3 linked regions of the Homo sapiens genome follow. The protein of the gene in region 3 purifies or fractionates together with the protein of the main gene of each other region. This does not show direct contact. Each region holds a gene or a part of one and is shown on either strand. Other genes may lie near its edges.

Evidence for each region. Proteins that work in one complex are often made in the same cells at the same time.
Region 1: the proteins of RHPN1 (region 3) and PODXL purify together in Homo sapiens (co-immunoprecipitation; 3 studies listed by BioGRID and IntAct, with this or other methods). This does not show direct contact.
Region 2: the proteins of RHPN1 (region 3) and PTPN21 purify together in Homo sapiens (co-immunoprecipitation; 3 studies listed by BioGRID and IntAct, with this or other methods). This does not show direct contact.

Annotation. Positions count from the first base shown.
Region 1 is NC_000007.14:131,504,518-131,512,114, forward strand, and holds part of PODXL (podocalyxin isoform 1 precursor), read right to left. Parts: intron 6,917-7,597; coding exon 6,311-6,916; intron 5,815-6,310; coding exon 5,719-5,814; intron 5,069-5,718; coding exon 4,848-5,068; intron 4,512-4,847; coding exon 4,434-4,511; intron 2,210-4,433; coding exon 2,062-2,209; intron 1,805-2,061; coding exon 1,743-1,804; intron 1,519-1,742; coding exon 1,351-1,518; intron 1-1,350. UniProt on the Homo sapiens protein: Involved in the regulation of both adhesion and cell morphology and cancer progression. Functions as an anti-adhesive molecule that maintains an open filtration pathway between neighboring foot processes in the podocyte by charge repulsion.
Region 2 is NC_000014.9:88,474,897-88,482,493, forward strand, and holds part of PTPN21 (tyrosine-protein phosphatase non-receptor type 21), read right to left. Parts: intron 5,457-7,597; coding exon 4,024-5,456; intron 1-4,023.
Region 3 is NC_000008.11:143,364,166-143,372,424, reverse strand, and holds the start of RHPN1 (rhophilin-1), read right to left. Parts: upstream 3,550-8,259; 5' UTR 3,438-3,549; coding exon 3,378-3,437; intron 3,346-3,377; exon of another isoform or gene 2,632-3,345; intron 2,601-2,631; exon of another isoform or gene 1,728-2,600; coding exon of another isoform or gene 1,719-1,727; intron 1-1,718. UniProt on the Homo sapiens protein: Has no enzymatic activity. May serve as a target for Rho, and interact with some cytoskeletal component upon Rho binding or relay a Rho signal to other molecules.

The sequences.
Region 1 (7,597 bases), on a different chromosome or scaffold from region 3:
GGAAGGTGACCGGTGAGAAGGGGGTTTCAGAGGGCTCTGAGCTTAATACAGCGCATGTACGTACCCCTCCCACTCAGGAGCCCCACTGTAGCTAAAGCAGGCCCTCATTGCTCGCCTGTGGGGCTGGCTGCTCCTGGTGGTCATTCTGGCTCTCAGCCTGCCCGGAACTAGTTGGGAACAAAGACTTGCCCCTCACCCTCACCCTGGTGGCAGAACCTGTGAAGTTAGTGGAGATGGACTTTGTTCTCCAGAGTCCTCTAAGCTCTCTCCTCCCCTTCATCCCTTCCCCCAAAACCTCCTCTCCAGGCACCTACCTCACCTATCATAATGAATGGGAAAAACACTATTAAAAAATGACCTCTCTCGGGCTGGGTGACTGAGCCCTCAAGCCTGGGCAGGATGGGTACGGTGTCTCTAGAATCATCCCTGCGGCAGACAGCAGCCATCTGGCAGAGGCGCTTTCTGTCCCTCTCAAACACAACCTTGAGTGTATGCTAGAATCACCTGGGGAGCTTTTAACAACTACACTGATGGACTCAGAGATTGTTTGAATTGGTGTGGGAGGCAGTCAGGCAAGGGAATTTTTCTAAAGTTCCCCACGGTGTGCAGGCAGGAGTGAGAACCACAGGGTCTGGGTGGCACCATCATGGCGAGAATTCTAGTAAGGTAGGCAGAAGAATTTTTGGTTAGACAGAACACCTAGGCCTGCTTCTATCAATGAATCCTCAGACCAGCTCTGCAAGGAGGTTATCCCTGCTGTGCAGATGAGGAACCTGATGCCCAAAGAGCTCATCTGACTGACTTCCTCAAGGTCAGGGCCAGGACTAACCAAGTCTCCCTGACTCCAGTCCAGGCGTGGTGACTCACACCTGTAATCCCAGCACTTTGGGAGGCTGAGGCAGGCGGATTGCTTGAGGTCAGGAGTTCGAGACTAGCCTGGCCAACATGGCGAAACCCCATCTCTAGTAAAAATACAAAAATTAGGCGGGCGTGGTGGTGGGCACCTGTAATCCCAGCTACTGGGGAGGCTGAGGCACAAGAATCACTTGAGGTTGCAGTGGGTGACACCAGCCTGGGTGACAGAGCAAGACCCTGTCTGAAAAAAATAATAATAATAAAATAAAAAATAAATAAGTCTTCCCGACTCCAAAGCCCACGCTCTGTCCTCTGCCACGCTGCCTCTGTAATGCTCTGTGGACTGAGGCGGCTGCCTATCAGGGGTGGCCTCTGCCTGTTAGAAAGGGTCCAGGGCCTGCTCCCTTTCCTCTTCTGCAACTCGGGAATCACGAGGGGAGGGTTCCTCTGGTGACCTGGGCTGCTTCCCCTGTGTGGCTGCAAACAGCTGCTTACCTGGTCCTTCCTCTGGGAGAGGCGCTGGTGGCAGCAGCCATAGAGGGCCGCCACGAGGAGCAGGAATGATGCCATGCAGACGATGGTGATGATGAGGGGCATGCTGAAGCGGTCCTCGGCCTCCTCCGGTGGCCCCTGGTCCCCTAGCTTCATGTCACTGACCCCTGCCTGCATGGGAAGTGGCAGAGAACAGGCTGGGGGCATCCTCTCTCCCTCAGCCCCCGGCTTCACTGTAGAGCCCCTCCGCTTGCAGTCTGCTAGGGTCCGTGCCGCCGCCCTCTTCTACATGCAGGCACATGACGGGGTTCCTCCCCACAGAGAGAGGGGAGTAACCAGACCTCCCACAAGGGGCTTCGGAGCCACTCTGTCCCCACACTTGGGGGGCCGCTTACCTCCTTTAGTTCATCCCATTTGTCCTTCAGCCGCTCGTACACATCCTTGGCAGGGAGCTTAGCTGTGGGAGAGGGAGACGATGCCCAATGGCCCAGCCCAGAGCGAGGCAGTGGGGGACGGGGACTGCGCCCCAAGAGAGGGACGCACCGTATCTCAGTCTCCTGAGTGTCTCTCGGGTGACCTGGGAGGGGGTGTGGCTTGACAGTTCTTAGGGAACTGAAGGGGCACCACTGTGACCCACCCTCCAATGTGGCTTCTGCATGCCCCCCATTCCCACCCATGCAGGCCCCAGCCCAGGCCCCCTTGCCCTCCACTCACTGTGAATAGTGATTTCTTTGACGACCACGGTCTGACTTCCTGGAACAGATGCCAGCCGTATGCCGCACTTATCTTGGGCCGGGTTGAAGGTGGCTTTGACTGCTCGGCATATCAGTGAGATCAATTTCTCATCCGAAGCGCCCCCTGCCTATGGTGGGGAGAGCGCAGGTGACTCCGCGGGGAGCGTGACAGCAGCCTAGGCCTGTGGGGCTGCCCTCCCAGCTAAGGTCGGGACAGTGCTGTTGCTGTGCTAGAACCTGCCTCCCTCTCTAGCCCCAGCTGGTGCTCCACGCAGGCCTGCCAGGAATCAAGGGTTGCATGCTGTTCTCCTGGGCCAGTTCCTGCCTCCTCTGTCTCGTTCCCATCAGCCCGTTCTCCGCACTGTGTTTATCTGGTCTACGCTTGCACCTTTCATTCCTTTCACCCTAGTGCCTCTTTTTTCCCTCCAAGCTGTTTGCGGATTGGGGGTTGTTTTCATCTCCCTCCCTAGAACGGGCTAGAGAGGGGGCACTGCACAGCAACCCTACCCCACAGCCCGCAGGGAGACTCCAATTCCCCCTAAACTCCCATTCACCAGCCTTTCATGCCCAGTTCGGAGAAATCAGGTGGGGAGGCTGCAGCTCTCAGCAGAAGGGTCTCTACCCCCAAAGCTGAAATACATGTGCCCTTGCCCTAGGCAGAGCCTCTGGCTCTGAAGCCACGGACAGGCTGACAGGGAAGGGGCTCCACTGAGTAGGGGAACAGGTGGGATCTTGAAGCTACCCCTAGGATATCTTGGAGGGGGTCTTATTTAGCTCTAAGAACAAAGATTGTGGCTGACGTGGCTTTAGAGCTGAGGATGAGGGGAGAAGTGTGGGCAGCATGTATCCAGTCCTGCCATGCCATCTAGGGGCACCCCTCCCTGGGGCTTCTCTGACCTGATTCTGGAATAAATGACTAAGACAAAGAAAAGGACTCTAGGGATAGCTTAGCACAGAACCCATACAAACCACCCCTAAGGTTTCTACCAGAATTTCCTTAGGCTTAGTAATTCCCCACCCTGACATCAGGAAGGGATCCAGGGTTTTCCATCTTCCTTTTCTAGCAAAGGGAAAAAAAAAAAAAGTGTCTCACAACAATCACACAGCCTACCAAGCTACATCCAAAAAGAGGGTCTGAGGAAGGGCTGGGCGGGCACCTGACTGTCCCCAGAGCCCATATCATGCAATGCCTGCCTTGTCCAATAAGCCCAGCCCTAGGAGAGCACTGCTCCCTTTTAAAACTCTGGTCTAGATGTAGGCTTTTGTAAAGTTCACTTGGAAAATGCCGGCATAATGGACACCCAAAAGAAAACAACTGCAGAAAATTCAGGCAGCATTAAAGTGTTGTAAGCCCAAATTCTCCATCCTATCTATAGACACCGTGTTCAGGTCTGTTCTAGTTCTAGTTCCTAGGGGGTGGCTGCAAAAAACCGGCACTGACCGGGAGAGGGCAGCAGTGAGCCAGCCATCTCCAGCACCCGCCGCGCTCGGCAGTTATTTACTGAGTGTGCACAGCGCACACTCCCCAGACCAAAGCCTTTGGACCCATGGAGACCGGTGGCCTGAAGGCTGCTCACACACTGCTACCTCCCTCACACAGGTGTGCTCACACGCACGCTCACCACCCAGACTGGAGAAATGCTGGCAGTGGCTCCTGCATTCCTGGGCCCTTTTCTCTCCCACCCATCCCATCAGCTCCTCAGGTTAGAGGGAGAATCTCCCAGCACTGTTCGTCCATCAAGGCTCTCAGATAGTCCACAGACCAGGAAATGTGAAGCCACAGACGATTAAAGCAGACAGACTACACCTCTCATTTTCTCTTGCTTTTCTTTTCTTTCTGTAAAAACAGGGTCTTCCTATGTTTCCCAGGCTGGTCTTGAACTTCTGGCCTCAAGCAAACTTCCTGCCTCAGCTTCTCAAAGTGTTGGGATTACAGGTGTAAGCCACCACACCTGGCCTCACCTCTCATTTTCAATTGAGACATCTGAAACCCAAAGAGATCAACTCACCAAAGTCACTCCCAGAGCTAGGGGCAAACAGGAACTAGGATCAGGGTCCCTCAACTCAGCATACTGGAAATAGTCACACAGTGAAAGCCGAGGAAACCGGGGGGTGGGAGGGGGGGGTCCAGTCCTGTGGGTGTGTCCTGACTTAGAGAAGTCTTAAACCTTGGTCTGTTGCTCTGTAAGATGGGAAAGGACCACTTCCTACTAGGAAGAAATGAGGGCCGGAAAGCAAATGCACCTTAGAAAGATGTTTAAAAATGCACCTAGAAAGAACATACATTCCCTCTCCCTCCCTCAGCCCTGCTGTGAGCCTGCACCTGGCGGCTCAGATCAGCAAGCTACTCACACAGAGGGTGTTTCCTGTGAGGTTCAGGACGAGCTGCTTCTCACTCTGTGTCTGTGTCTCAAGATCCTCACACTTTGCCTGGAAGAAGCCACTGAGATTAAGGTTTGGGCTAATAGTCATGGAATCTTTGACATTTCCCCCCAACTAAGGGGTGACCCAGATAGGAAAGAGTTCACGGCAAGCTGGAGGCATGGCTGGACCCATTCCAGAGCCAGGTATGTCCTGGCTGCGTGGCTTGAGGGCAGCTCAAGCCAGGACCAGGCTAACCAGGGAGAGGGAGGAGGGAATGGGTAAGTGCTGCTCAAAGCCCCAGCCAGGGGCCCTGCGTTGGAGGAAAGAACAGAAAACCTTGTCTTAAAGCCTCTTCTACCCGAGTCTGGGTTCTCCTACTTGCCCCACCCCTGCTGGAGTTACCCAGTTACTCTCATGAGCCACAGTGGGAGAAGGTGTTTTGGGGTATCGGTGGGTAGTTGATGCTGCTGTGGGGCTGGAGCTCATGGTCTCTGGCAGGGTAGGTGTTCTCAATGCCGTTGCCGGGCTCGTGGGCTGCACTGTCTCCTGGGAGGAAGGGGCCGTAGAGCTGGCTGGCATCTGACTGGAGGTCTGTTGAGTTCTTTGCGAGATAACCGATGACGCTGTCATTGGGAAAACGAGGGTAATGAGAAAAGATGAGTGCACCCTTGCGAGAAGAGGACAATCTTTTCTTGCTCTAATAGTTTTCCCAGGTTCTTTGGTCTTACCTCCCACAGAGACGGAAGAAGTGGACTCCTATGACAAGCCAGTGGAATAACCCGGCAAAGTCACAGCAGCCGCAGCAAACGTTCACTGAGCACTTAACTTTGTGCAAGGGACTGGGTGCCTCAAAGGTACTTTCCTACTGAATCCTCACAATCCTCTGGGGAAGGAATCGGCATCATCCCTATTTCATAAACAAGGAAACTGAGGCTCCGAGGGGCTCAGTGATTTGCCCGAGTTCCTGTGCCAACAATGGCAGGGCAGGGATTCGAAGCCAGGATTATCTCAGCCGGAGCCCGCACTCCTACTGTGTGGCACCCTCCTGTGGAGCGGTGGCCTGCTGACTTCAGACCATATGCCTCTGATATGCAGCAACATCACCAGGAGCGCTCAGAAACTCTGGGTCCACAGGTCTGAGATGGGCCATGATCCTAAGGCTCTTGATCCATAGGTAGATTTTGAAATTGATTTACTAGGTTAAGACAAGCTCTTATAAATAATAAGTAAGTAAGTAAGTAAACAGGTATCGGCCGGGCATGGTGGCTCATACCTGTAATCCCAGCACTTTGGGAGGCCAAGGTGGGCAGATCACCCGAGGTCAGGAGTTCAAGACCAGCCTGGCTGACATGGTGAAACACTGTCTCTACTTGAAAAAAAAAAAAAAAAAAAAAAAAAAATTAGCTGGTGTGCTGGTGCACACCTGTAGTCCCAGCTACTCGGGAGGCTGAGGCAGGAGAATTGCTTGAACCCGGAGGTGGAGGTTGCAGTGAGCAGAGATCATGCCACCGCACTCCAGCCTGGGTGACAGAGCGAGACTCCATCTCAAAAATAAATAAATAAATAAATAAATAGGTATGAAATAGAAACTATTCCCCTCTCAGGTTCAAGCAATTCTCCTGCCTCAGCCTCCTGAGTAGCTGGGATTACAGGCGCCTGCCACCATACCCAGCTAATGTTTGTATTTTTAGTAGAGACAGGGTTTCGCCATGTTGGCCAGGCTGGTCTCGAACTCCTGACCTCAGGTGATCCACCTGTCTCGGCCTCCCAAAGTGCTGGGATTACAAGGCATGAGCCTTTTCAGAGCCATCACGCCTGGCCCTGAAAAGTTTCTTGGTGCTTGAAGAAAACCAGGCATTACTTACGTAGGGTGGTGGTCATCCCCGGGCTTGTGAAGGTGTAGCCAGGGATAGCCACAGTGCTTGAACTGCTTGAAATTTTCATAAGATGGTCATGTCCCGAGCTTGTTGGGGTGGCCACAGGATGCGTCGAAGTGGGTTGTCGGGGGCTAAGTGGACTTGTAGGGTGAGGGGTCGTCAGATGTTCTGCCTTAGTGGATGTGAGGTCTGTGGTCACACTGTGGCTGCTTTTCCCCCCAGAGTTTGTTGTATCTTCTGCTCCATTCTGGCTGCTTGTGGTGTTAGGTTTAGCTGTGGCTGTGGAGGTTGCAACTGTAGTGGTGTCTGCACTTTTTGTGCTCTTGGGGCTCTCGATGGTGGTAGTAGGGTTGCCTGAGCCGCCTCCTCTAGCCACGGTAGTGTTGACTGGGCCTGAGACTTGCTGAGCCAGGGTTGTAGTCCCCGGTGAGTCACTGGATACACCAAGGGTGGTCGCCTTGACCGAGGCCAAGATTTCGTTGGCCTTGGAAGTGGGGACTGTGCTCTGCTGGGCTGTATCTGTAGCCATGATGGTGACACTGGATGCTGGAGTCGGTGCTGTTTTGTTAGATGAGTCCGTAGTAGTCTGGGTTGCTGTTTGTAAAGATAACAGAGAATGGAGTTAGGGCTGGGAGGCTTCCTCACCACGCTTCTCCAGCTCTTCCCCAGGATTCAGAGGCCTTGCTCGCAGCCCTGCTGTCTGCCTTGCTAAAGGCCTGGGTCTTTGGTGAATCCAGAATTTTCGGAGGTTCAAGAAACCTCTTTTTTCTGTCTTTTTTTTTTCTTCTTCCTTTTTGTGGAGAATGGGGTCTTGCTATATTGCCCAGGCAGGTCTTGAACTCCTGGGCTCAAGCTATCCTCCCGCCTCTGCCTCCCTCAGAGCTGGGATTACAGGCGTGAGCCACCACGCCTGGCATGAAACCTCTAAGAGGGCAGCTTGGAGTGCAGCAGGGTCAGAAAAGCAAAATTCTGCTGAAGGCGAGCCCAGGCCAATGAGGCCCACCACACGTGGAGGCTGTCATGCATGCCCTGCCCTCCCCGTCCAGCCCCACACACATCCCCTTTAAGTTTCTCAATATGCTACCCCAGAACCAGCTGCCAGGAACACCTCTGTCTCCTCCTCCCCAGCTCCCAGGCACGTGGCCCACAGAAAATTCCACAGACTAATGCTTCCTGAACTGCCCTGGCCCTGTTCTGAGCTTAAGCAAAAAAGACATGGGCCCTGTTCTCATGGAAGTTATATCTAGGAGAAACTGATGATAAACTGAAATTACA
Region 2 (7,597 bases), on a different chromosome or scaffold from region 3:
TCCTGGCCAATATGGTGAAACCCCGTCTCTACTAAAAATACAAAAATTAGCTGGGCGTGGTGGCACATGCCTGTAATCCCAGCTACTCGGGAGGCTGAGGCAGGAGAAAGGCTTGAACCTGGGAGGTGGAGATTACAGTGAGCTGAGATCGTGCCACTGCACTCCAGCCTGGAGGCAGAGTGAGACTCCGTCTCCAAAAAAAAAAAGAACACTAAGTTTCGTTGGATATACTACACTTCCTTGGATGATATCAATATAATGAGTAGCCCCAACTGGAAAATAATGGTTCTGCCCTGTAAACAAAATCCGTGTTATTCCAGCTCTCTCAGCCTGTAACAGGCCATGAAGCCCCATGATAATGGTGCAAGAACAGAGGGAAAAGGCAACTTGGTGAGAGAGGAAAAAAATCCTAAAAGATTGCTGCTGTAATTGGAGACTGTGATTGGTACCTAACTCAATAAGCTAAGTGGATTAATTTTTAATTTTATAATTAATATTTGATCATGAGCTCCCCACATAATGCAGTCTAGACTATAAACAGCAGAGGCCTGGGTTCACATCTGGCCTCTAACTGACCAACTTCTTTCAGGCAAGTCACCTTTCCTCTGTAAGCCTCACCTAGACAGAAAGAGACAGATATATCCAGACACAGGCATACAGACTAAACACTTCCTGCTTAGGCTGAAATTTAATGATTCTAACGTGCAGAAAACAGTGATGTGCTGGTAATATTTAACAACAGGCTCTTGGAAGGAAGTTTTGATCGGTGTTTGCCCATATCCATGGTGTAAATACTCCCATCACAGCCAATTTCAAACTGTTAATGTCACATCAATTGGCTCACAAGGTTCCTGAACATTTAAGTCGGCTCTTGCTAGTCAATATGAACTAGCTCTGGCACTTCTCTGCCTGAAAATGACTCAAAATATCCCACACTGGGACACGCTGGATAAAGCTGATTGGCTGTGAGGTCAGTTCAAAAGCCAGTATTGGAAGAATGTTGTATGTAGTCAAAACTAGCCTTGAATATGCCTTAATTAGCCCTTAGAATATAAGCACAGGATTTTAATGCATACCCTGCACAGTGATTTCTTATGTGAGAACCACTGCACTAAAGGGTACAACAAAAAGAAAATCTTTATGTAGATATATGAGCACCCAAACCAGTCTGCCTTTAAGATAACAATCAGGTTGCTGGAGGTGGAGATGGGTGGAGAATTCTAAAATCATTCCTACTTGTCTACAGTTTATTTCACTGTTTTTAATACTAAACCTCCATAACCTTAATTCACATTAGGAAATTTGTTGTAACGATTAAGATAATGGCAACCCCATGTTACTATGAAAGGTCAGAGGGTACAATAGGGAATTGGCCTCTTCCACTCTTGAAAGCCATTAAGTTAAATATATGATGCCACCTCACAGTAATGTTAATATTGACTAATCTCTTTCAATGTGCCAGAACCTCATTTTTATCCCCCCAACAACTCTCTGGGGTCCTCTCATTTACAAATGTAAAAACTGAGTCACAGATTAAATAGCTTGTCTGAGGTCACATGGCTGCCTCTTTTACAAGGTAATCAGTGTCAAAACAAATAAAAGCAAATCTTTGGTTAAAATCAGTTACACTGAATCATGTAATTCAGGAGGCATTTTTTCATGCCTAACTGCATGTGGGACATAATGCCACGAAGCAGGCAGCGAAGGGATGACCGTCCTCATGATCTGAGGTTATCTGATGTGGAAGCTGAGGTTCTGACGCATGAAGGGTCCTGACCGTGGTCACAGAGAACTAACAAATGGCAGGCTCTAGACTCAGCCCCAACGTTCTTAACTTGTAGGACCTTTGCTCTTTCCTCGTGACCACAGCTGCCATACCCATTCCTTAAGTAGAATCCTTTAAGCAAAAAGGACCAAAAACATAATCCAATCACATAATTTTACTAGTATTGTGGTCTTAAAAGTCAATGGGAGAGAAAAGTTCTTTTAAGAGAACCAAATTGATCAAAGTCCTCAGATTTAACTGAACCTACCAGACCCCATTCAAAACATACAGGGATAAAATAGGCCTGAGTACTGAGCTGTACTCAGATAGCATTTGGGGAAAGTACGTGAGTCACACATAAAAACAGACCGTTCTTAATGCAATGGGAAGGGTGTTAACTATAAAAGGACCCTGTCCAGCTGGCTCAGGGATTCAGGTAGAGTTACTTTGGAAAATCTACCCACACCTTATCCTGAATCACTGCTCCCTACACTCTTAAATCTGTGTCCACTGAAGGCATTGGCCTTTACTGTTCAGGGATGTGAGTTATGTTGCATACTTGTGAAAAATTTAAAAATCAACTTAAAATTCAAACCCAAAACTTATTAAAAGAAAGCAAATTTAGGCCAGGTGTGGTGGCTCACACCTGTAATCCCAGCACTTTGGGAGGCTGAGGCAGCCAGATCACAAGGCAGGGGAATCGCTTGAACCCAGGAGGCAGAGGTTGCAGTGAACTGAGATCACACCACTGCACTCCAGCCTGGGCAACAGGGCAAGACTGTTCTAAAAAAAAAAAAAAAAAAAAAAAAGCAAATTTAAATCTGTGGTACTTTTTTTGTTAAGTAGTTTTTGTCTATGTACATTAATCTCTTTCATAAGTACTATAATAGTGTGCGTTTTTTCCTGTTTAGCAAGATGTTTGCAGCATCTTAAAGGATGTCATACACTAGGCCAGAACCACACTTGAGATGAGCCGTCCTGTCGGAGTTTGCAGTTTAGCAGCGATGGGGGGAGGAGAACCCTAGTTGCCAGGACACTGGAAGCCAACAGGAGATAGGATGGAGGCCCTAATCAAGTTAGCCTGGCTCAAGTGCAGGGCATGAGGAGTGGAGATGTGGGCCAGGAAGAGCTGGAAGCCTGAGCACTGCAACAAAATCACTTCGGTGGACACACTTCATGACAAGGCCGCAGATGCTTAGTCCCAGGTTAAGGACTGAGTTTAAAAGTTTCAGTGAAAGACTAGCAAGGCTTCAACAAGCAATTATGACTTAATAGAACATATACAGTATACTTCAATGCAGAACATACATCTACAGTGTAGATGATAACAGAATGGGCTTCTAAGTATGGGTTTAAAATTCCAGTTCAGTCACTCACTAGTCATGTGACCTTGGAAAAGTTAGTTAATATCTAAGTCTGTTTCTTCATCTGTAAAACAGGCATAACAATAGGCTTACTGTAAATAGGCCACAAAAGTAGAGGAAATGCTTGGCCCATGGCAAATGCTCCAAGGATGGTAGCTAGAGATGATGCTACTATGCTTTTTTATATTTTGCTTCAAAGTAGGTAAAAAGTGCTTAATTCATATTTATTTATTAGGCTGAATATTAAAGAACTGCATCTTCTACCGGGGACTTTCCTTAGATTCTCAGCTGAATTCATCTTTCTTTTAAATTTAAGAAACCTGGACGTCTCAGGATTTGCCTTAACAAAGTGCCACCTTCCCAACTCCAGAATCACTCTGGAGAATCACGGCCAAGATATGTAAGCTGTATCCACACACACTCCAACCTGGAGAATTATATTAGGATTGGGTACACTTTCCTGGATGCTTTTTTCAGATATCTCTTGAGCAAACTAAACAAATGCACCCCTGGGGTGCCACATCACCCACAGTATTTTTAATGGGTGGCTAAAGCAATCGTGGCTAAAGTAATGAAATCTTAACTGTCTTTCCCTTAACAGTGCATTACTAAAACATTTCATTCATCTTTTCCATTTCGACAAAACCCTGTGAATTTACCTTTTCACTTCATCTATAATAATTATCTCCAGTAAAACCACTAAAATTCAAGTGGATCCCCATGATTTCCATAAATTTAAATGTGTTCAGAATTAGACAAAAAGAGAGTGACGTGGGGGAATGAAGAACGTTAAAAGAACAAGAGGAGCTGAAAAACACGGGACGTGATGAGTGAAAGAAGCGCCAGGGCGAACGCGCGGTCCCCTGGCCCGGCACTGCTCGCCGCGTGGCTTACCCCTAGAGGCGGGAGCCCTTCCACGATGTTCTTCTTCCCAGAGAGAAGGTCCGACACCGGCCTTTTCTTCAGAGAGTCCCTCCGGGCTCGGTAGCGGCCTGACGTGGTGAGGTCGGACTCCGACATGGAGGGCATCAGCAGCCCGTCTCTCCAGGGCCGCTGGGCCTCTGCGGTCGTGCGGACGGGGCTGCTGTCCATCATCCTCTTCTCCGCGTCTGGGACGTGGGCCTTGGGCTCCAGGATGTGCAGGGGCCCGGCGAGCAGGACGCGAGGGCAGCCAGGTGGGTCCTGGGCCAGGCCGGGCCGAGGCTCGCGCGCACGTGCAGGAGGCGCCCGGGCCCCGCTCTCCTCCTCGAAGTCCTCGTCCTCCTCCTCCTCGCTGCTGTGGATTAGCATGGTGGCGTCCGACAGGGACTTCTTATGGCCGTACCTCAAGCCCTCCGCCTCCTCCGGCCCTTCTCGCTGTGTCCTCTCGGTGAAAACGCTGGGCTGGGAGCCCACCGAGACGGCTCGCGGCGCCACCTCTGCCGCCGACGCGGATAGGGTGCGCTCCTTGAGCCGCAGGCCCTCCAGGCCGTGGCTGAGCCCGGCCACCTCGATGCTGTTCCGTTTGTGCAGCTGCGCGTGGCGCGCGGCGGTGAGGGGCTCGCTGACCTCCTGCAGCGAGTGCGCCACGGGCAGGCTGTCCTCCTGGAACGTTTGCACCGAGTGGTGCACGCGCCGCGTGATGAGGTCGGGGTTGCTGCTGCTGATGTAAAGGTGGCGGGACAGGTCTGGCGTGCTGTTGGCGGGCCTGGGGGGCGGGTAGGGTGGGGGTGGCCGGTACACCTGCGTCCGCATGATGTTGGGAGACGGGTAGTCCTGCGCCTGCAGCTGCGCATTGGTCAGCTCCGGCACGCTGACCGCGCCCACCACGGGCCGCCGCTCGGCAGGGTAGGGGTAGGGAGACGGGCTGTGGAAGCTGTAGCTCAGGCTGAACGGGCAGTGTGCGGCCGCTGGCGAGGGGAGCTGTGCGTGCTCGCGGATCTCGGGCTGGCTGTAGACCAGCGCCGCGGGCCTGCTGTAGGCGTACGAGCTGCCGATGTTGAGGTTTCGCAGCGAGTGGCTCTGCCGTTCCGCATGCACCAGGCCCCTGTTGAGCTGCTTCATCACAGTCTCATAGTCTGGGGTGGGGCGGTAGGACGGGGGTATCACGGCGCTGTGCCGATGGGACGGGAGGTAGTCAGGCCTCATGACGTCACTCCCGGTGATGCTAGGGTTGGACGACATCGGCGAGGGCTGCAAGTAGGGCTGAGGATTATTTAAGGAGTTGGTGCTGTGTGCACTGTAGACACTGCCATTACGGATCCGACCGTTGAGGTCAATCTGGGCTCTATCCAAGCTTGTCTGAGAGTGACAGTAGTATCCGTTCTGGTTGGGCACAAAGAGGTTATCTAGAAAAAATGAGTTCAAAATGAGATTTTTTTAAATGGACTAATTACTCCAACCAAATACTGAGATCGGCCCTTACCTCTGATGACATTTTTAACACAGCTTGTAAAAATCCCCGCTAGAATGACCTAGCTTTAGCCACACTATCTGAGTGACCCTGGGAGCTTCGGCTTCCTCATCTATAGGATGGGCATGGCTCTGCCTACTTAAGGGGTGGCATTCATTGGGTGACAAAGTGAGACCCTGTCTTAAACGAACCACACCCACAGCAGACTAGCAGACTTTTTGGAACTCTGGGGAAGTTGAGGCAGAGATACCATTCAAGGCACTGGGCTGGGGACTCTGCCTTTCTTCCCTGGGTAGGGATGTGGCCTTGCTGCTGCTGAGCTAGTTCAAGCACCAACTGTCTGTAAGCATTTCCTTAACTGGAAATTTTTATTGTTCTTCCCAAATGAATATGAGAGCTTCGACTGTAAAAGGGTAATGGTATAGCAGGATCTGAACTTCTCTGGTCCAACAGTGTCACCAGCAGCCACACAGCCCATAAAGTGTCCAGAAGCCAAGAGGAGCCACATTAAACAGCTGCAGCTGCCCCCTGCCCTGGCCCCCATGTTTCAGGAAGATCCAGACCTGCAGCTAACAGAATCAGTTTAACCTAATCTTAAAATAGCTATGCATGTGTCCCTGCCCAGGGATGACAGGGGCCATGTTTCTTCTAGTCAATTTGTAGCTCACCTGCCCTCTGTTACTGAGGATGATTTCTAACCCTAGATGATTTCTAACACTCAGCAGCCAACTCCTTCAAATAACAATTTCCTCTGAAAGGCATTCTTTTTGTGCTTCGAAAGCTCCATGGTGATTTATGTGATCATGGTGATACTTAAGTAATACACCACAATCCAGTGGGTACACTTTATTCTGGTGGCACATGCAGCTGTGAGGAAATAGCACTCAAATCTCCATGGTATTCTTCTGCTGACACACAGCACTTCCATGTCACTGTGCTTTCCTCATTTATGCAAAGCTTGGTCATGGCTCCATCTCTGCAATCCCCCTTTCCTCACTGCTGCCACAGCTCGGGCCCCTACCCCAGCTTGTCTGAACTAGCTCTATATACACCTAGTCTCCCTGCTTCTGCACCCCACAAACCATCTAGCCATTTATGAGACTGTTATGTGGAAAAGGCAATACTAAGAATAGAAGGAGGAAAAGATGGTTGGAATACAGGCAAGAAAAGGGGAAAGGTATGCATGAAATCACCATAATTCAAGGAAGGGAGAAGAGATGAAGGGTTACAGGAGTCCAGAGGAAGAAATGCTCATTTCCAGCCTGAGTTGGGTTGATGGGGACAAGGAAGAGAGAACCAAGAACCACCTCACAAGATATGGCAGTTAAGGGGACTTGAGGGGTAAGTGGGTGGGGTGGGCGTGTCCAGCTTCCATCAGAAGTGAGGTCTCTCCACCTCTCAGAGCACGCAGGGTTACCCCTCCTCACCCCTTGATATCAGGCACAACAATGCGACTAGTAATGGTCAAGGGAAAGTGCACAGAGGGTTAAAAGCCAGCTTCCAGGCTCTCTTCCAACTGCAACACTGACCAACAACATTCCAGAGAGAAGAGCCTCTCCAGCTCAAGCCCCTACGGCAGACTCAGACAGGGCAGAGCCCTCCTGCTAGTACAGTGTGCAACGGACAGGTGACCTTTATTATTACTTCCCTGAGAGTTTGGAATGGAGTATTTTGTCAGCACAGCATAGCCCTGCCTATCCGGTCTGCATGGCAGCATGTGAACGGAAGGGTGCATGGGGTAAGGGCACCTGAGGGTGCAGAGCGGCACTGGCAAAGCCAGGGTGCACCCCTGGGCAAGCTGGGGTGGCTAGAGTGTCAGATAGCTACAGAGGAGTAAAATAACTTGGGAAGTAAGGTTGGAAGGGCAGGCTCAGGGAATATTGTGTGGAGTCTCGAACACCAGGCAAAAGAATGATCCTGCACACAGCCGTGTGCAGTGGCTCACACCTGTAACACTAGCACTTTGGGAGGCCAAGGTGGGCAGATCACCCAAGGTCGGGAGTTTGAGACCAGCCTGACCAACACGGAGAGACCCCATCTCTACTAAAAATACAAAATTAGCTGGGCGTGGTGGCG
Region 3 (8,259 bases):
AATTCCCTCCAGAGCTGCTTCAGGGACTCGGGCTGGAGAGGCCCACAGGTGGGAGAGGGGCATGGGCGCCTCAGATCTGAGAAGCTCCCTGAACCTGAGGCCCGCCCACCCCCGCCTCCCATCCCTACCTTTCCCACCGGCGCTACCACCTCGAGGGCCTCTGCCCAGTACCTAGGAGACCCCCGTGCCACCCACCGCAGCTACACCCCCTCCCCGCAAAGGCCCCGCTGCAAGGCTCCAGCAGCTTTAAGGGCTCTGGCTGTGCGACGGGCATCAGACACCCAGCCAGGTCCCTGCTCCCCTCCTGGCCCCAGGAGAGCTGCGGGGAGCCTGGCCCCTTGGAGCCCCACAGGCACCTGCTGTGGGCCTGGTCCATTCCTCGGCCTCCCTACCCGCAGTGCTCCCTGCAGGCCAAGTGACTTCCCGGCCTACAGGCGGAGGAGCAGACCCGAGCCGGACCTTTGAGGCTGGGTAGACCTTGGAGGTGGGCGGCCCATGCCCCACTTTCCACACTGGGTTGAAGGTTGAGCCCAGTGGAAGGGGCATAGACACAGGCGTTCAGGCCCCTACTCCTGCTACAACCTCCCCACCCTCTGGAGACAAAGGTGACCTGGAGCTCCCCACCCCCACGTCCACGGTGCCCTGACACCCCACTGTGGCCATTTCCGCCTTGCATTAGGAAAGGACAGAGAGGCTGTGGTCTGTGGGGGTCCCGAGAGGCAGCCACACATGAAGGGCCTGGCCATGCCTCGATGGAGAGGGACGAAGAACAGAGAAACAGCCCCCCAACCCTGACACTGGGGCTCCTCTGCCCAGGAGGAAACAGTGTGGCCCTGGCCAGAGTGGGGCTGACCTGGGGACGGGCAAAAGGCAGAGATAGTTATCCCAGCCCAGGTCTGGGAACAGCAAAACATCAGAGCAGGGCCAGACCTCCACTCTCCCCCAGGATCCCCTGGCCCTGGGCCAGGCAGTCCCCAGGGAGAGGTCACCCACCTGGAGCAAACCAGCTTTTTCCCTTCAGAGCCCTGGCCCTGGGCACCCTGTATGCTGACAGCCACCCATCTCAGGTACCCCTCTCCTCTGCCCCCACTGAAGTCTCACCTGAATGCAAGAACTGGAAGCCCCAGGAGGGTGGAAGCCCAGCACCCACCTGACCCACCATCTCTGCCCCCCACTGATGAGGGAACAGAATTCAAAGGGCATTGCTGCACAGGTGTCTCCTGGGACACAGGGCTATAAGCAGCACGCACGCCAGAGGAATCATAGACTGGCCACTCACGGCAGGGACTCCCACTCTCTCTGATGCTCCCTGGGGTACCCAGGCACTGGTGCTTCCTGAGCACCCCTCTTCCTGGAGCCCAATCTACCTGGGCAGGGGCCTGGGAACCTGTAACCAGCACCCAGAGGGTGCTCCTGTCCAGCCAGGCTGGGGAACCTCAGGCTGACCCACTCGGCATGCTGGAGACCAGGTGAGGGGGGCACAGCCACCCTGCCCACCTGCTGCTCCAACGCTCTCCCTCTGCAGCCTGCTCCCCCTTCTCCCACTGGCCTCCCCAGGAAACCACAGAACCTTCTGCATACAGCCAGGCTGTATTCCTTGTGGTCCTCCCCCGGGAGCCCCTGCAGCCCCTGCGGGAGGGACGGCAGCTGGGTTGGCCACCCTGGGCCGTGCCAGGCTTCTCCCCTTCCCAGCTTGGCAGCCTTGGCCACTTACTCACCCTGTTCATCAGACGGGCTGAGGCCCAGGGCTTGGGAGGCACCAATGGCAGGACTCCAGCTGTAGCACTGGCCCTGGCACCAGGTAAGCGCTTGCTGGAAGCCTGCTCTCATCACGCCTGGGGCAAATACAAGTCACCCAGACCTGTCCACAGGGCCTCAGGCCCAGGTGTGGCCTCTAAGTGGATGAACGACCGACCCCTGACCCACTGAACTCTGAGCTTTAGGGCCAGTTTGGGGGCCAGCCTGATGGGGGTGGAACAGGCCTCACTCTAGCCCGGCAGCAGGCATCGGGGAAGACTTTCCAGATGGCAGGACAGCCTGAGTGGTGCGCGTGTGACACAGGGCCTGCCTCCGCCCCACTGCCACCTCCCACGGGCCCCTCCCCAGTACCCTGACTGTGGGGTCATTTCTGGACGCTGTGAGAGACACGGCAGCCTGGAAACAGCTTCTCCCCAACTTTCCAAGGTGGCAGCCCAGGGAGGGCCAGGACAGGGAGCCCAGGCACAGCCCCCAGCCTGAAAAGCGTCACCTCCGGAGCCCTCTGGGACATCTTGTTTGTACAGCCTCCCAAACATTCCACCCAAAACAACATGTGCCGTCCCAGGCCACCTGCAGGCATGGCCGCCCTGACAGAGCAAGTTCATAGGGGGCAGGCACAGGCTGCCTCTTTCCCTCCAGTGCCCAGGAGGTGCTGCAGCCTCTGGCACGCCTCGGGGTGGGCAAGAAGGGCGTCCTTGAGGGCTACGGTCAGCATCACCAGCCCAGTGACCTGAAGCCAAACCCTGGCTGATAGCACCGCCTCCTCCTCTAGGAGACCTAACCCCAAACACCAAAGCCGAGTAGAACCAGCCCAGGGACAACACAGTCTGACGTCCCAGAGGGGAGGAGGGCCGCGCGCTATCAAAGGCTCACCCGGGGCGAGGAGCAGGAGCAGCCCGCGGCTGAAAGCCCGTGGCGGGCGTGGGCGCCCAGGGCCTGGCAGGAGGACTGGGGCAGCCTCGAGCTGGTCCGCAGGGAACAAGCAGGCTCTGGGCTGCAGAGCAAGGCCCACAGACGTCCCCTCCTTCCCAGGCACAGACTCAGCAGGTCTCCACAGCCCTGCCCACCCCTCCCACTTGCCCAGTCAGCACCCCGGGTTAGGGACTTCAGAAGGGAAGGAGGTTTGGGAAGTGAGAAGAGGCCAGCCGGGAAGACCTCTCTCGGTTTCCCATACCCAGGAGGCTTCGCTGCCCGCTGCTACCAGTGCACCCAATGGGCATGCAGTTCCTGAGCGGATGCAGAGGGAGGACCGAACTAGGGAAGGAGGCTGTACAGGTGCCGGAAAGGAACACGATGGCGGGTGTGGGGAGGGCGCTCACAGAGCCCAGCCCCACATCCGCCCAGAAGGGGGACACGAGGAGGGCGTCCCCCCAACCCGCTTCAGCGGTGAGGATGATCCAGACTTTGGCTGTCCGCATTTCCCGGCTCACATGAGTGGCCTGGAAGCACCTCCACCGAGCTCAGAGGAGGAGGGACGCAGGCTCTGGCCTCAGTTTCCCTGCCTGCGTCCGGGCCGAATGAGACGTAGGAGGGGGGCGCCCGGAACGCGCCTCGAGGGGGGGCAGGAAAAGGCCGGGATTCCGGGCCCCTCCTCCCGCCGCCGCGCCAGTTCTGCGCACCTGCAGCCGCGGGCTCTCCTCGCCGGCGCCCGCGCCGTCCGGCCTCTCCTCCAGGATCATCGCCGCACCCGCTGCGCTGGGGGTCCCTCGGGGTCAGCCAGCCCGCCGCTCGCGCAGCGCTCCGCAGCCGGGCTAGGGCCGCCCGCACCACCTGGGCCGCGGGCTCCTGAGTGCCCGCGCCGGTCCCCGACTGTCCCTCCTGAGTGGGGGCGGCCCGCGGCGCGGCTGGGCGGGGCACGGGTCTGGCGTGCGAAGCTGGCCATTGCCCAATAGGCGGCAATGCCGCTTCGACGGACAGCTATATCAGCCAACCAGAGTTCCAGGAAGGCGGGCTCTGGACGGCCAGCTCCGCCCGCCCGCGGGACGGTAACCCCTGGCAACCGCGGCCGGAACGCCCGCGGCTGGCTGGCAGGTTGTACTGCGCATGCGCCGCGGCGGCCGCTGAGCGTGCGGGAGAAGTTCGGGAAACGGAGAAAAAAACTATACGGAACGTCCCAAGCTGAGAGTCAGGGCGGACCTGGACTCGGCGCGCCTAGCTCCTCGGCTCCCTTTGCGGGGACTCCAGGAGTCTGCCCGCTCGCGCCGTTTCGTCCTGTCACCCCGGCAACGGGACCCTCTAAGAGGCTTGTTCCAAAAATGTTCACAATGGGGTTTTTAAAAACGGTTTTGTTAGGGACAAGTGCTTGTGTGAGTCCTCCGACAATGCCTGCTTTCTTCTCTCTGCCCGCGGAGCGGAGGCTCCAGGCCTGGCCCCAGTCCGAGGCGCCTCTGTCGGTGTCGTCCTGCTTCCAAAACCGGCCTCCAGAACCCGCCTCCTTCCAGAACCTCCGTCCAGAACCCGCCTCCCTCCAGAACCTCCGTACAGAACCCACATCCTTCTAGCACCTGCCTCTGGAACCCACGTGCTTTCAGAACTACCTGTTTGTAGAACTTGTTTCCAGAACGAACCTGCTTTCCGAATCTCTTTACTTCCAGAGCTTGTTTCCTGGACTGACCTATTTTCAGAACCTACTTTCAAAACCAGCTTGCCTCCAGGACCACCTGCTTGGAGAACTGGCCTGCAGCCCCAGGACTGGACGACCTGAGACTGCACAGCTCCCTGCGGGGCTCACCCGGCTGTGTGTGTCCTTCCGGGCCTTCCATACTTCCCTAGGTGTCTGGTGACTCCGGAGCCCGCTCGGATTTCGTGTGGGTCTCGCCTCAGCTCAGAACACACCCTTTGAAGAGCAGGAAGGCCAGGGCACAGGCGGTAACCACGGCTCCTGGTCATCAAGTTCCTCTGAAGCCCAGGTCTTGTCCACGTTCACTGCCCCACCACAGGCCCAGCGGAGCCTTGGAGCTGAGCCCTGGGATCATTCTGGTGCCTGTGCTCCCGGCTCCGCAACAAGCACACAGGAGCCTGTCATCCCCAGATCTAAATCCTGAAGGCTAAGCTCCGTGGTCTGCCGCAGCCATCTGCAGCAGGCCCCTCCCAGCAACAGCCTTCTCATAAGGCCCCTGCCAGCCACGCGAAACCTCCTGGCTAGGGCCTGTCTTCCACTCCTGGCCTTTTGAGACAGGGCCTCACTCTGTTCCCCAGGCCGGAGTGCAGTGGTACGATCACAGCTCACTGCAGCCTCCACCTCCTGGGCTCATGTGATCCTCCCACCTCAGCCTCCTGAATAGCTGGGACTACAGGCTTGCACCACCACACCCGGCTAATTTTTGTATATTTTGTAGAGACAGGGTTTCGCCACATTGCCCAGGCCCAGGCTGGTCTCAAACTTCTGGGCTCAAGCAATTCATCTGCCTCAACCTCCCAAAAGTGCTGGATTACAGGGATGAGCCACCATACCCGGCTTTTTTTTTTCTTTCTCCTGGCCTTTTGGGGCCCTTGAAGTGTCTGCTCCCTGGGAGCCCTTCAGCTTGTCGTCCACTTGGTGGGTTCCCACCCGTCCTTCTCACTTCTGCCTGAATCACACAGGCTACATGAGACCTTCACCCACCCCCTTCGCCAGCAGCTCTGTGGTTCAAGTTTCCTCAAGGTTAGGGGCTCCTGGCCATCTTACCTGTGGGCCTGAGCATGGGCCGATGCTTCCAAAGTTCACACTGGGTGCACTTGTGTGGGGACTTCCATGTGAGTCATCTCCTTGCAGGCTGCCAAGGTCCTGTACAGCAGAGACCCAAACCCTCTTAGCAGTCTTCAGAGTCAGCTATGTGTACAGGAGGCATTACCATATCAGTGACTGTCAGCAAGCATGTGTGACTGAAATGGTATCCAGTTCTTACGTATTTGTTTTGCAGGCTTCTTGGTTCAGCAGACAGAGGCCATTGGGAAGTTAAGAGAGGCTCTCAAACTTTGAGGGTCATAAGACTTCCCCTCCCTGCAGGGTGCTGTTTCCTGAAGGAAAATATTCAATTACTATTTTCTTTATTTATTTATTGAGATGGAGTCTTGCTCTTGTCGCCCAGGCTGGAGTGTGTGCGTGTGCGTGTGTGCGTGTGCGTGTGTGTGCGTGCATATGTGCGTGTGTGCGTGTGTGTGTGTGTGTGTGTGTGTTGGAGGGGGGTGGTGCTGCCTTTTTCTTTGCATGCTTCTGTGTTACTGGATTTGGCACAGCAAGAATGTATCACTGCACTCAAAAAATTTAGAGTTTCCTTTTTGTTTTTTTAAATTATTTTAGATTTGGAGGTACATGTGTGGGTTTGTTACATGTGTATTGTGCACTTCTGAAGTTTAAAAATTTAGGGGGAAAAATGAAAGGATGGGAGGTGAGAAAGTAGAGGAGAATTTTGGTGTGACAGGCAGGGAACTGGACAGCGGCGGGAGGGGCACGGCAGTGAGCGCCGGGACCTTTTGCAGATGAGGTGATAATTGCTGATGGGGCTGCTTTATGCTCGTTTTCTCTTTTGTAATTTATAAAGAAAAAAAAATTGAGACAGGGTTTCGCCCTGTTGCCCAGGCTGGTCTTGAACTTCTGAGCTCCAGTGATCTGCCTGCCTTGGCCTCCCAAAGTGTTGGGATTATAGGTGTGAGCCACTGTGACTGGCCTTTTTTTTTTTTTTTGAGACAGGGTGGCTCTCTGTCGCCCAGGCTGGAGTGCAGTGGTGTGATCACAGCTCACTTCACTGCAGCCTCAACCTCCTAGGCTCAGGCAATCCTCCCACCTCGGTCTCCCAAGTAGCAGGGACCGCTTGCATGCGCCACCACATCCAGATAACTTTTGTATTTTTTGTAGAGATGGGGTCTCGCTATGTTGCCCAGGCTTGTCTCAAACTCTGGGCTCAAGCAATTGGCCCACCTTGGCCTCCCAAAGTGCTGGGATTACAGGTGTGAGCCGCTGTGCCTGGCCTGCTTTATGCTTTTATATGGACCAGTACTTTGCAAGTGTGAGCCTGGCAGACTCTTGCTGCAACCAGGAACATGCAGATTTTCCAGATGGGCAGGAACCTGGGCTCCTTTCTGAGCCTCCACATGTCCTGGGTGAAGACCTCAAGGTCTGGAGAGACTGACTGACTCACCCAAGGCCCAATGGCTGTGAGCGGGAAGCCAGGACTCCTCACAGCGCCAGCTTCTTCCATGCATGCCAGCCCATCTGCAGAGCCCGGTCAAGCTCAGGGGAACGCCACCACTGAACCAGAGAGGCAGCCAGGAGGAGGGGGTCTAGATAGAGAAATGTGGAAAAAGCAGCTGATTCCAGAAATTTCCTGCTTGGCCTGGATTAGGCCATGCTGGGGACTGGCTGCCCCTTGCCCAGTGGGTGCTGGGGCATTCAGGCTTGGGGTCTTTTAGGTCAGCCCTAAAAGTTGATGATTTGATGCTGATCGCTGGTACTTACTTCAGCTTTCCTTCTGGTTGGAAGCCTTAATTAGTGGAGGTTGCTGACACTGTTTATGCGCATCGGTATTTTTTTAGAATGTGGAGTGGAAGAGGTGGGCTTTGGGGGACTGGCTAAACCCCAAGAATTTAACTGGCCGTGTATTTTGGCCACTGTTGCGCCTGTTAAGATCTTGGAGTGTGGGTTTGCACCTGTATTTAGAGGTGCACAAACCCACACAAATTCAAGGATAAATAACTGCAAGGCCCGAAGAGAACACGCTCTCCCGCTGCACGCAGGCTGCTCAACTGTGATGAATGGAGTAACAGGTACCACAGGGCGAGCAGGACGCCTTCATCAATGGTGGTAATAGCCACCAATGCATCATCTGTGGAGGCAACAGGAGGGACGGCTGGGGCAGAATCAACAGAACGTGAAAATGAATTGTTTGTAAATACAATCAACAGTGTTATGTTCGTGAGAAAGCCATTCATCATTCAGAAACCACCTTTAGTAAAAGATGCACCTGGCTTCCCGGTGAGACGGGGCCATCAATCCCTCCCCAGTCACAGGGTCAGCTCGGGGCTGCCTAAACCCCCAGAGAACAGACACACATATTTATTCTTATTTGAAAATAAGAGTTGTTAAAAAAAAAAAAGAGCCACTGAGAACATTAGCTTGCCGGGAGCATGGTAGAAGGAGCCACATGGGGACAAAGAGAGCTCTTTAAAGCCCTCATCTTCTGGGTGCCCTGCCAGGCCCTGGTGGGGCCTCCGTAAGCAAGGAGCACCCAGCCTGCTCTGGGACCTTCCCGGGCTGTGTGTGCTTATGTCCCTCCCGGCCGCTGAGGGACCTTCCCAGGCTGTGGGTGCTCATGTCCCTCCTGGGTGCTGAGTGTGCTTAGGGAGGGAGGGAGGGAGACGCCCATGGTTGGCCTGCTGGCTTCTGGAGAACTGCACTTTTCTGGCAAATAAAAAGAAAAGGATATGGGGAAGGGGAACACATGATTGTCCTTGGAATGTGGCAGAGTGGCCTGCTGTGGACTTTCCTCTGGTTGCCAGTTTCATTCTTAGGACAGTGCCTTG